Regions from separate parts of the Homo sapiens genome. Here region 1 is linked to region 2. Evidence: fine-mapped expression QTL. A gene starts in region 2. The other region holds a variant in brackets. All regions are shown on one strand. Distances are from middle to middle. Region 1 overlaps COMMD7 (COMM domain containing 7). Region 2 holds the start of COMMD7 (COMM domain containing 7).

Region 1 (5,000 bases), 34 kb after region 2:
AAAAAAAAAAAAAGTCTCCGTGTCAAAAAAAAAAAAGGGACCATCTCAAAGTTATCTGTGTTTGAAGAAGGATGTTCTTAAATTTCCCCACGTGTCATGTTCTGCTGACTGCAGCTGTTGGAGTTTACACAATTTTCTTTTTTTTTTTTTTAAAGGTCTGGGGTACATGTGCAGGGTGTGCAGATTTGTTACATAGTATGCCATGGTGGTTTGCTGCACCTGTCAACCCATCACCTAGGTTTTTTTTTTTTTAATTTGAGACGGAATCTTGCTCTGTCACCAGGCTAGAGTGCAGTGGCGCGATCTTGGCTCACTTCAACCTCTGCCTCCTGGGTTCAAGCAATTCTCCTGCCTCAGCCTCCTAAGTAGCTGGGACTACAGATGCATGCCACCATGCCCAGCTAATTTTTATACTTTTTAGTAGATACGGAGTTTCACTACATTGTCCAGGATGGTCTCGATCTCTCTCTTTTTTTTTTTTTTTTTTTTTTTTTGAGACGGAGTCTTGCTCTGTGGCCCAGGCTGGAGTGCAATGGCACGATCTCGGCTCACTGCAACCTCTGCCTCCCGGGTGCAAGCAATTCTCCTGTCTCAGCCTCCTGAGTAGCTGGGATTACAGGCGCCTGCCACCACGCCCGGCTAATTTTTGTATTTTTAGTAGAGATGGGGTTTCATCATGTTGGTCAGGCTGGTCTCGAACTCCTGACCTCATGATCTGCCCACCTCGGACTCCCAAAGTGCTGGGATTACAGGCATGAGCCATCGTGCCCAGCCCTCAGTCTCGATCTCTTGACCTTGTGATCCACCCGCCTCGGCCTCCGAAAGTGCTGGGATTACAGGCACGAGCCACCACGCCCAGCCCATCACCTAAGTATTAAGCCCAGCATGGAATAACTATTTTTCCTAATGCTATCCCTCCCCCCACCCCACCCTCCAAGAGGCCCCACACAATTTTCATTCTGTCTGACATAAGGTCAAATGTTGCAGGTCTGTCTTGTGGCTGGCATTTGCTTAGGACAAAGGAATCACCACAGGAAAAAGCTGAAAAAGAAGTTAAGAGCTTGAGGCCTAGCATGATGCCAATCCATGTTTCAAGTCTGGCCTCTGCCCTCCAGAGGTAACTTCAGGATGGAGAGCTTGCTCTTCCATCCCTGCAGCTTTGTTGACTTCATTGTCAGCAACTGTCAAGGCATTGCCTGATACCGCAGCACCAAGATAGCGTCTGAGAATGACCTGGTGTAGAAAGAACTTGGTGTGGGGACCCTCTGGCCTATAAGCCACTTGGCTCTGTCAGTTGCTGACTGTTGTGGCCTTGTTCCTTTAACTGTTTCCTTTTTTTTTTTTTTTTAAGTAACATTTTTTTTTTTTAGACAGAGTCTCACTCCGTCGTCCAGGCTGGAGTGCAGTGGTGTGATCTCGGCTCACTGCAACCTCTGCCTCCCAGGTTTAAGCGATTCTCCTACCTCAGCCTCCCAAGTAGCTGGGACTACAGGCGTGTGCCACCACGCCCAGCTAATTTTTGTATTTTTAGTGGAGACGGGGTTTCACCACGTTGACCAGGCTGGTCTCAAACTCCTGACCTCAAGTGATCCACCCGCCTCAGCCTCCCAAAGTGCTGGGATTATGGGCGTGAGCCACCACCCCCGGCCAAAGTAACACTTATTTTTATTTATTTATTTTTAGAGATAGAGTCTTGCTCTGTCACCCAGGCTGGAGTGAAGTGGTGCCATCATGGCTCACTGCAGCCTCAAACTTCTGGGCTCAAGCGATCCTCCTATTTTAGCCTCCTGAGCAGCTGGATTACAGGTGTGCACCTCCACACCCAAGTAATTTTTTATTTTTATTTTTGTAGAGGCAGGGTTTTGCTATGATGCCCAGGCTAGTCTCAAATTCCTAGCCTCAAGCAATCCTCTCACCTCAGCTTCCCAAAGTGCTGGGATTATAGGTGCCTTTCCTTTTTTTCTTGACATTATATTATGCAGATTGGTCCATCAACAGCTACTGAGCTACATCTATTTTTTTTTTTTTTTTTTTTGAGATGAGGTCTCACCCTGTTACATAGGCTGGAGTGCAGTGATGCAATTATGGTTCACTGTAGCCTCAACCTCCTGGGCTCAAGCCATCCTCCCACCTCAGCCTCCTGAGTAGCTGGGACCACAGGCCTGTGCCACTATACCTTGCTAATTTTTTTATTTTGTAGAGATGGGGTCTCCCTGTATTGCCCAGACTGGTCTTGAACCCCTGGGCTCAGGTATCCTCCCACCTCAGCCTCCCAAAGTGCTGGGATGACAGCACTTGGCCTTACATAATTTTTTTTAAGCCTGGATAGCAATCCATTGTAAGGATTCTTGCATTCAACGTGCTTTTATTGAGTGCCAACCAATAAACTTTGCCAGGCATTTCTCTCAGAGCTTGGGACACAGCAGTAGGCAAAATGAGCCTAGTCTTTGTTCTTATCAAGCTGGTGTTCTAGTGGAAAAATTGATAATAAATATATAACATAAAGTTGGGTAGTTATAAATGCAATGCAGAATATCCCACAGCATTATACGAGTATGAGTAAAGGGCAGTGCTATTTAAATTAGAATGAGGCTGGGATTGGCAGCTCATGCCTGTAATCCCAGCATTTTGAGAGGCCAAGGTGGGAGTATTGCTTGAGTGCGGGAGTTTGAGCTGGCAAGATAGTGAGACTCTATCTCTAGAAAAAAAAATTAAAAATTAGTCAAGCATTGTGGAGCATGCCTGTAGTCCCAGCTACTTAGGAGCCTGAGGTGGGA[G/A]GATCCATTAAGCCCAGGAGGTCAAGGCTGTAATGAGCCGTGATTACACCACCGCACTCCAGCCTGGGTGACAGAATGAGATTAAAAAAAAAAAAAAGTAAAAAAAGAAAAAATGTGAAATAGAATGGTCGGGGATCCTTTCTGAGGAGGTAAGAGTCAGGCAGAACCCTGAATGAAGCGAAGGGATGAGCTATGTGCAGAGAACTGCAAGGGCAAATGGCCAGGGGTAGAAAGCTGTCTGGCATATTCTAAAAATAGCACAGTAAGCAAGGGAGAGAGCCTAGGGGTTCTAAGAGGAGGCCAGAGCATGCAGGGTGTTGTACAACCTTTGGATTTTACTGTGAGTGAAATAGGAGATAGTAGAGGGTTTTGAGCAGAAAAAATAGCATGGTCTGACCTGAGGTTTTTGTTTGTTGTTTTTGTCATCGTTTGTTTTTGAGACGGAGTCTCGCTCTGTCGCCCAGGCTTGAGTGCAGTGGCAGATCTCGGCTCACGGCAACCTCCACCTGCCAGGCTCAGATGATTCTCCTGCCTCACCCTCCTGGCTAATTTTGTAACAGGCGCCCAGCCTGTTTTTTTTTTTTTTTGAGACAGAGTTGCTCTGTTGCCAGGCTGTAATGCAGTGGTGCCGTCTCTGCTCACTGCACCCTCAGCCTCCCAAGTAGCTGGGACTACAGGCGCATGCCACCACACCCGGCTAATTTTTGTACTTTTAGTAGAGACGGGGTTTTGCCACGTTGGCCAGGCTGGTCTCGAACTACTGACCTCAAGTGATCCACCCCCTCAGCCTCCCAAAGTGCTGGCATTACAGGCATGAGCCACCGTGCCTGGTCTCTCCATGACCTTTCATCCCTACTATCCACATTGCTAAAGAGCTTCCCCTGTATATCTCAGCGTGCTTTTGGGTGCAGCTTGGTTGGGTGAATTCTTGGCAGTGCAATTCTTGACTATCTGCATTTGCCAAATTTTCTCCCAAAAATGCTTAATGTTTCCTGGTAAACTAAGTTAAAATAATAGCTGGGCATGGTGGCTCATGTCTGTAATCCCAGCACTTTGGGAGGCCAAGGTGGGTGGATTGCTTGAGGTCAGGAGTTTGAGACCAGCCTGGGCAACATGGCAAGACCCTGTCCCTACAAAAATTCAAAAAATTAGCTGGGCATCATGGCACACGCCTGTAGTCCCAGCTATGTGGGAGGCTGAGGTGGGAGGATTGCTTGAGCCCCACCCACCCACCCCGGTGTGGTAGGAGGTGAGCTGAGATTGCCCAACTGCACTCCAGCCTGGGCGATAGAGTGAAACCGTGTCTCACTGTCTCAAAAAAAAAAAAAAAGTTACAATAATAAAGCCCAGTGTTTGGGGATTGTCAAATAAAGCATTGGGTTTGAATTGGATATAAACTAAGACACTGTATTCATGGTAGTTAGGAGTTATTTGGATTGGCTGGGAAGTAGCCACCTTCTCAGAGGGCCTTTATGGCTAAGGTTTCCCGGGGTCTTGCCTTTTTTATTCCGTGTGGCTTCCTTGCTCAGTCTGATTTTGGAGATAAAAGATTTCCTCCCTTTGTTTATATGGTTGATTTTACCGGTACAACAGCCTTTAGGATTGTTTTTCTGGAGTGAGTTGGGGGTGGGGACTTGGGTTTAGGGTATAGGTTCAGGGCCTTCCCTTGATGGTGGTTGGCATCTTCCTATTCTTTAATTAGTCATTTTCTGGTGAACTAAAAAGTGGAAAATTTGAGAGTGGTTGCCAAATTGTGACTGGGGATGTAGCCTGCAGGTTAAACATTGAGAAGCCCAGATTGCTGGCTTTGTTTTCAGGAATTGGAGCCTAGCAAAACAAGGTGACCACCACAGGGAAGTGTTCCTAGGGCTTCTGAGAAGTTTTGACAGCCCCTCTGGAAGTGACTTGTGAATTGTAGAGGTTAGTCTGTTTAGTCCATCTTGGTGTACTGTGTGAAAGCTAACTTCTTAGGACAATGCCATCCAATAGAACTTTCTTTGCAGATGTAAATGGTCTGTAATCTTCAGTGTTCAGTATAATGGTCACTGGCCTTGTGTGACTGTTTGACACAGGAAATAGCTAGTGAGACTGAGGAATGGAATTTTAAATTTTATTTAATTAAAATTTGCATAACCACATGCAATAGTGGCTACATAATGCATTGTGGAGCTCTAGGTGGTTGCCCCCTGTGCCCAACCTGACATTACACTCCCCTGCCTCTTG
Region 2 (5,504 bases):
CACTTTGGGAGGCCGAGGCGGGTGAATCACGAGGTCAGGAGATGGAGACCATCCTGGCTAACACGGTGAAACCCCGTCTCTACTAAAAATACAAAAAATTAGCCAAGCGTGATAGCGGGCACCTGTAGTCCCAGCTACTCGGGAGGCTGAGGCCGGAGAATGGCGTGAACCCGGGAGGCGGAGCTTGCAGTGAGCCGAGATAGCACCACTGCACTCCAGCCTGGGCGACAGAGAGAGACTCCGTCTCAAAAAAAAAAAAAAAGACTGGAAAAGAAGAGTCACCATATTCCTATAGTATTGGGTGTCAGTTTCAAGTGAATTCCTTTCCTTTTCTGTATTTTCTGTCACATGAGCTAATTCCGTTCCACAAATACAGTATTTATCAAGTGACTCAGCACCAGTCACTGTGGAAGCAGAAATGAAAAGAAATCCAGTGGTTTTCTCCAGGATGTTAAAAACAAAACAAAACTTAAAACAGGTTCATTTTATTTTTTATACCTAAACAGTTGATTTAACACTTAAAGATATGAAGAAATGTAATGCCCTGATGGGGATCTTCTTTTTTTTTTCCCCCAACTATTTATTTATTTATTTTTGAACAGAGTCTTGCTCTGTCGCTCAGGCTGGAGTGCAGTGGTGGGATTTCGGCTCACTGCAATCTCTGCCTACTGGGTTCAAGCGATTTTCCTGCCTCAGCCTCTAGAGTAGCCGGGATTACAGGCATGAACCACCATGCCCGGCTAATTTTTGTATTTTTAGTAGAACCAGGGTTTCACTATGTTGGCTAGGCTGGTCTTGAACTCCGGACCTCAGGTGATCCACCGGCCTCAGCCTCCCAGAGTGCTAGGATTACAGGCATGCGTCACTGCGCCCAGCCCAGATCTTCTTTTTTAACAAGGTTAAAAATATTTAAAAATAAAAATTCCGGGCCAGGTGCAGTGGCTCACGCCTGTAATGCCAGCACTTTGGGAGGCTGACGCAGGTGGATCACTTGAGGTCAGGAGTATGAGACCAGCCTGGCCAATGCGGTGAAAACCCATCTCTAGTAAGAAGACAAAAGTTGGGCCAGGTGCGGTGGCTCGCGCCTGTAAACCCAGCACTTTGGGAGGCCGAGGCAGGCGGATCACCTGAGGTGGGGAGTTCAAGACCAGCCTGACCAACATGGAGAAACCCGTCTCTACTAAAAGTACAAAATTAGCCGGGGTGGTGGCACATGCCTGTAATCCCAGCTACTTGGGAGGCTGAGACAGGAGAATCACTTGAACCCGGGAGGCGGAGGTTGCAGTGAGCCGAGATCTCGCCATTGCACTCCAGCCTGGACAAAAAGAGCAAAACTCCGTTTCCAAAAAAAAAAAAAAAAGACAAAAGTTAGCTGGGTTTGGTGGTGGCCACCTGCATTCCCAGCTATTCGGGAGGCTGAGGCTGGAGAATCACTAGAACCCGGGAAGCAGAAATTGCAGTGAGCCGAGATTGTGCCACTGCACTCCAGCCTGGGTGACAGAGCCAGAATCTGTCTCAAAAAAAAAAAAAAAAAAAATTCTTGCACGGTGAGTAGGGCCTCTGAGTTCCTGTCTGTTTGTCACCCGAAGGTTTATTCTCTTCCAGGTACTCCAAACTCGGACTGTGTCCTGTACACATTCTCAAAGCACCTCCTACTTTTTGGCATCCCTTAATACTTTCACACACACTTGCGTCTGCCCCCTGGGTCAATTCTGACTTCTCAGAGGCCAGGCACTGCATCTGGTTCATCTGGTTGTGTCACTGTGGAATCCCCACCCCCTATCATGTCATGGTATCTGCCTCACAGCAGACCTTCTTTTTTTTTTATGGAGATGTGGTCTTGCTCTGTCGCCCAGGCTGGAGTGCAGTGGCGCCATCTGGGTTCACTGCAGTCTCGATCTCAAGATCTCAAGTGATCCTCTTGCCTCAGCCTCCGAGTAGCTGGGACCACAGGCATGTGCCACTCAATATTTGTTGAATGAATGTATGAATGATATAATGACTGAAGGGGATGGGCTTGGCCTTTGGGTAGAAGACTTTTTTGTTTTTTCTTTGAGACGGAGTTTCGCTCTTGTTGCCCAGGCTGGAGTGCAATGGCGCGATCTCGGCTTACCGCAACCTATGCCTCCCGGGTTCAGGGAATTCTCCTGCCTCAGCCTCCCGAGTAGCTGAGATTACAGACATGCACCACTACGCCCGGCTAATTTTGTATTTTTAGTAGAGACGGAGTTTCTCCATGTTGAGGCTGGTCTCAAACTCCTGACCTCAAGTGATCCGCCCGCCTCAGCCTCCCAAAGTGCTGGGATTACAGGAGTGAGCCACCGCGCCGGGCCGGGTAGAAGACATTTTGTTTATACTTTTACAGAAGGGATTTTCAGGAAAGGGTAGAGGAGAGGAGGAGGGCTGGTGAGGAAGGCCAGCCAAACCCCCCACATTTCCCTGCTCCAGGTTTCTCGGCATTACCTCTTTACCCTCAAGGCTGGACTTAGGGGCTAGGTGAAGCCCTTAGGCTTGGCGTTCAGTTCCTAGATTCTGGGTAGCATGTCTCTATTTTCTCATGTTTCCAGTGGGGATTAGGGTAATATTCACCTGGGAACTGTGAGGAGCCCCTGGGAAGAGAGGGCATGGGGGTTAGAGTGTTTGAGGGGCTGCAGTGATGATCACGGTCTCAGTAACCTCCCCTCACCCACCTCACCACCACCCTCCCTGCCCCGCACAGTCAAAGCCCTCGCACTATTTTGAGGAAACTTTGGTAAGTCAGTTTCTTCCACTCCAGAAGGTCTCAAAGTGTAGTCCCTGGGTGCTTATTGGAAATGCAAATTCTCAGGCTCCACCCTGGCCTTTCGAATCAGATCCTCTGGGGGCGGGGCCCGGCAATACCAGGTGATGCTGGGGTGATGCTGATGCCCTTCCAAGGTTGAGACCTAGTCTCTACTCTGATGTCAGCTCTCCGAGAGACACTCTGGCCTGCTTTGTTCCCTTCCCTGTCCCCAGTGTCTGGCATCGAGTAGGCTGCCATAAATATCTCTGGAGTGCATAGTAACAGTGATGATGATAATAGCAGCTAGCCATTGATTGAAGACCTCTTGTGTGCCGGTCTCTGCGTTAAACATTTCTGGAGGCTTAACTCATTTAAGGAGCTACCCCAGCCATCATTTTCTCAGATGGTGAAACTGAGGTTCAGAGAGGCCAAGCGCCGTACCCAAAGGTCACTCAGCGGGAGAGCTGGCAGGAAACCTCGCGTCTGCCGGTGCCGGCGCCGCCCCTGCCCCTCCCCGGAGCCCGGCGGCCGCGCGTGTCCGCGGCCCTGCGAGGGCTCCCCGGCTCCGGACAGCCCAGGGCGGCCGGGGGAGGAGTGCGCTGCGACGGCCGTGGCGAAAGTGCGGTTGTGGATGCGCGGAGAGGCCGGCAGCGGTGGCAGCGGCAGCGGAGGAGGAAGCTGAGCAGGGCGGCGGCGGCGGTGGAACCTGCGGGGCTGGGGCGCGCGCCATGGGCCGCCTGCACTGCACTGAGGACCCGGTGCCGGAGGCCGTGGGCGGCGACATGCAGCAGCTGAACCAGCTGGGCGCGCAGGTGGGCCCGGCGGCGGGGCGTGGGGCGCGGGGCCCAGGTGATTCCAGGATCCGGGCCTGGGGTGGGGGGGACGTCCGGGGGTGCGCGGGAGTTGGGAGAGACTAGACAGAGCGGCGTCTTGTGGGCGTTTGGGGTGTGTGAGGTGGGTTCGGGGCGAGGCTAAGGTGAGCTGGGGTCTGAGGAGAGTGTGGGGAGCCAAGGGATCTCCGGAGGCCTAAGGGCCACCTGAGGGGTCCGAAAGGCTTTGTGGGGTCTCAGAGATGGGACTACGGGACCTCTGCGGGGTCCTGGGGCCGAGGAGAGCTTTTGGGGTCCTAGAAGAGGGACGGAGGGGAGTCTAGATGAGGCTGAAGGAGTTTGGGGAACTGAAGGAACAGACTAAGGGCGTGGGGAGTTTTGGGGAGCAGTGGGGTCCAAAGGGAGATAGATGTTTGGCAGGGAGGCCGAGGAAGCCTGAGGGGAGTGGGAGGGCCCGAGAATCTGAGGGGGCCCGGGGAAGCTTGGCCTGGGCTGCCGTCTTACATCTCAGTGTGACATGAGTGTCAGTAATAGCCAGGCCCCACTGGGGCTCTGTGGGCCTGAGGGGCTCGATCTGGGACAAGGCTGATGACACCTTCCACCTCCACCCAGTTAAGGAGAGTCACTGGGATTCACATGGAAAGAAACCTTATACACTGTGTACAGTGGGGGTCTTCATCCTCGATGGTAGGGGAGCTAGCAAAGCCTTTTTCTCCCCCTTCAGGCTGCAGGTGCCAACCAAGGCAGTCTTGGAGGCATCCTGCTTCTGTGCTGGTTGGGATGCCTTTTCATACCACCAAGGCTGCTGAAATAGGTGAGAATGACACTTCTCACCCCCACTGGGAAGATACATCTATTTCCCCCGCTAGGTTGTCACTTCCCAGGAGGTAGCGCCCCTCTTCTTTCATCTCCATACCCCCCACAACTTCCCACACAGTAGTGCTGCTTGCGAGATAAAAACCAAACTTAGAACTTGTAACGACAGGAAGGTTCTAAGCTTGAGCTATGCAATAGAAAAATTTGCAAGCCACATTTCTAACTTTGCATTTTGTAGTAGCCACATTTAAAAATTAAATAGAAATGGAAATTAATTTTTTTTTTTTGAGACGTAGTCTCATTCTGTCACCCAGGCTGGAGTGCAGTGGCGCGATCTCGGGTCACTGCAACCTCCGCCTCCCAGGTTCAACCAGTTCTCTGTCTCAGTCTCCCGAGTAACTGGGACTACAGGCACACGCCACCATGCCCAGCTAATTTTTGTATTTTTAGTAGAGATGGGGTTTGACCATGTTGGCCAGGCTGGTCTTGAACACCTGACCTCAGGTGATCTGCCCACCTCAGCCTCCCAGAGTGTTGGGATTACAGGCGTGAGCCACTGTGCCCAGCCCTGAGTTTATCTTATGCAAGCATCCTAGAGTTTATTTACACAAACCTACTGCACCCTAGGATATATGGTATAGCGCATTGCTCCTAGGCTACAAACCTATACAGCATGTGACTGTACTGAATACCATAGGCAACTGGACTATAATGGTAAATATTTGTGTGTTTAGACAAATCTAAATAGAAAAGGTACAGTACAAATACAGTATAAAAGATAAAAAATAGGCCGGGCACGGTGGCTCACACCTACCCTAGGACTTTGGGAGGCCAAGGTGGGCGGATCACAAGGTCAGGAGATCGAGACCATCCTGGCCAACATGATGAAACCCTGTCTCTACTAAAAATACAAAAATTAGCTGGGTGTAGTGGCGGGCACTTGTAGTCCCGGCTACTCTGGAGGCTAAGGCAGGAGAATCGCCTGAACCTGAGAGGTGGAGGTTGCAGTAAGCTGCGATTGCACCACTGCATTCCAGCCTGGGCAATAGAGTGAGACTTCATCTCAAAAAAAAAAAAACAACTTTCTAGTTGGGTAC

The links. PIP is the estimated chance that this variant, and not a neighbour inherited with it, causes the effect.
Region 1: its variant is the best candidate, but not a certain one, in a credible set for the expression of COMMD7 in whole blood (INTERVAL, PIP 0.87).

The regions. Positions count from the first base shown.
Region 1 is chr20:32,707,764-32,712,763 of GRCh38, reverse strand. The region is part of intron 3 of COMMD7 (COMM domain containing 7); the gene reads left to right. Among named protein-coding and RNA genes, the nearest start is that of COMMD7, 33 kb to the left of the region's middle. RefSeq lists a silencer at 1,083-1,377 and an enhancer at 3,396-3,902. The variant G/A (reference allele first, on the strand shown) is at 2,778.
Region 2 is chr20:32,741,377-32,746,880 of GRCh38, reverse strand. COMMD7 (COMM domain containing 7) reads left to right here and starts at 3,414. Exons shown (of 9, transcript NM_053041.3): 1 at 3,414-3,573. The coding sequence starts at 3,490. RefSeq lists enhancers at 1-30, 1,919-2,863, 3,751-4,578, 5,248-5,504 and silencers at 3,159-3,388, 3,569-3,638, 4,623-4,797.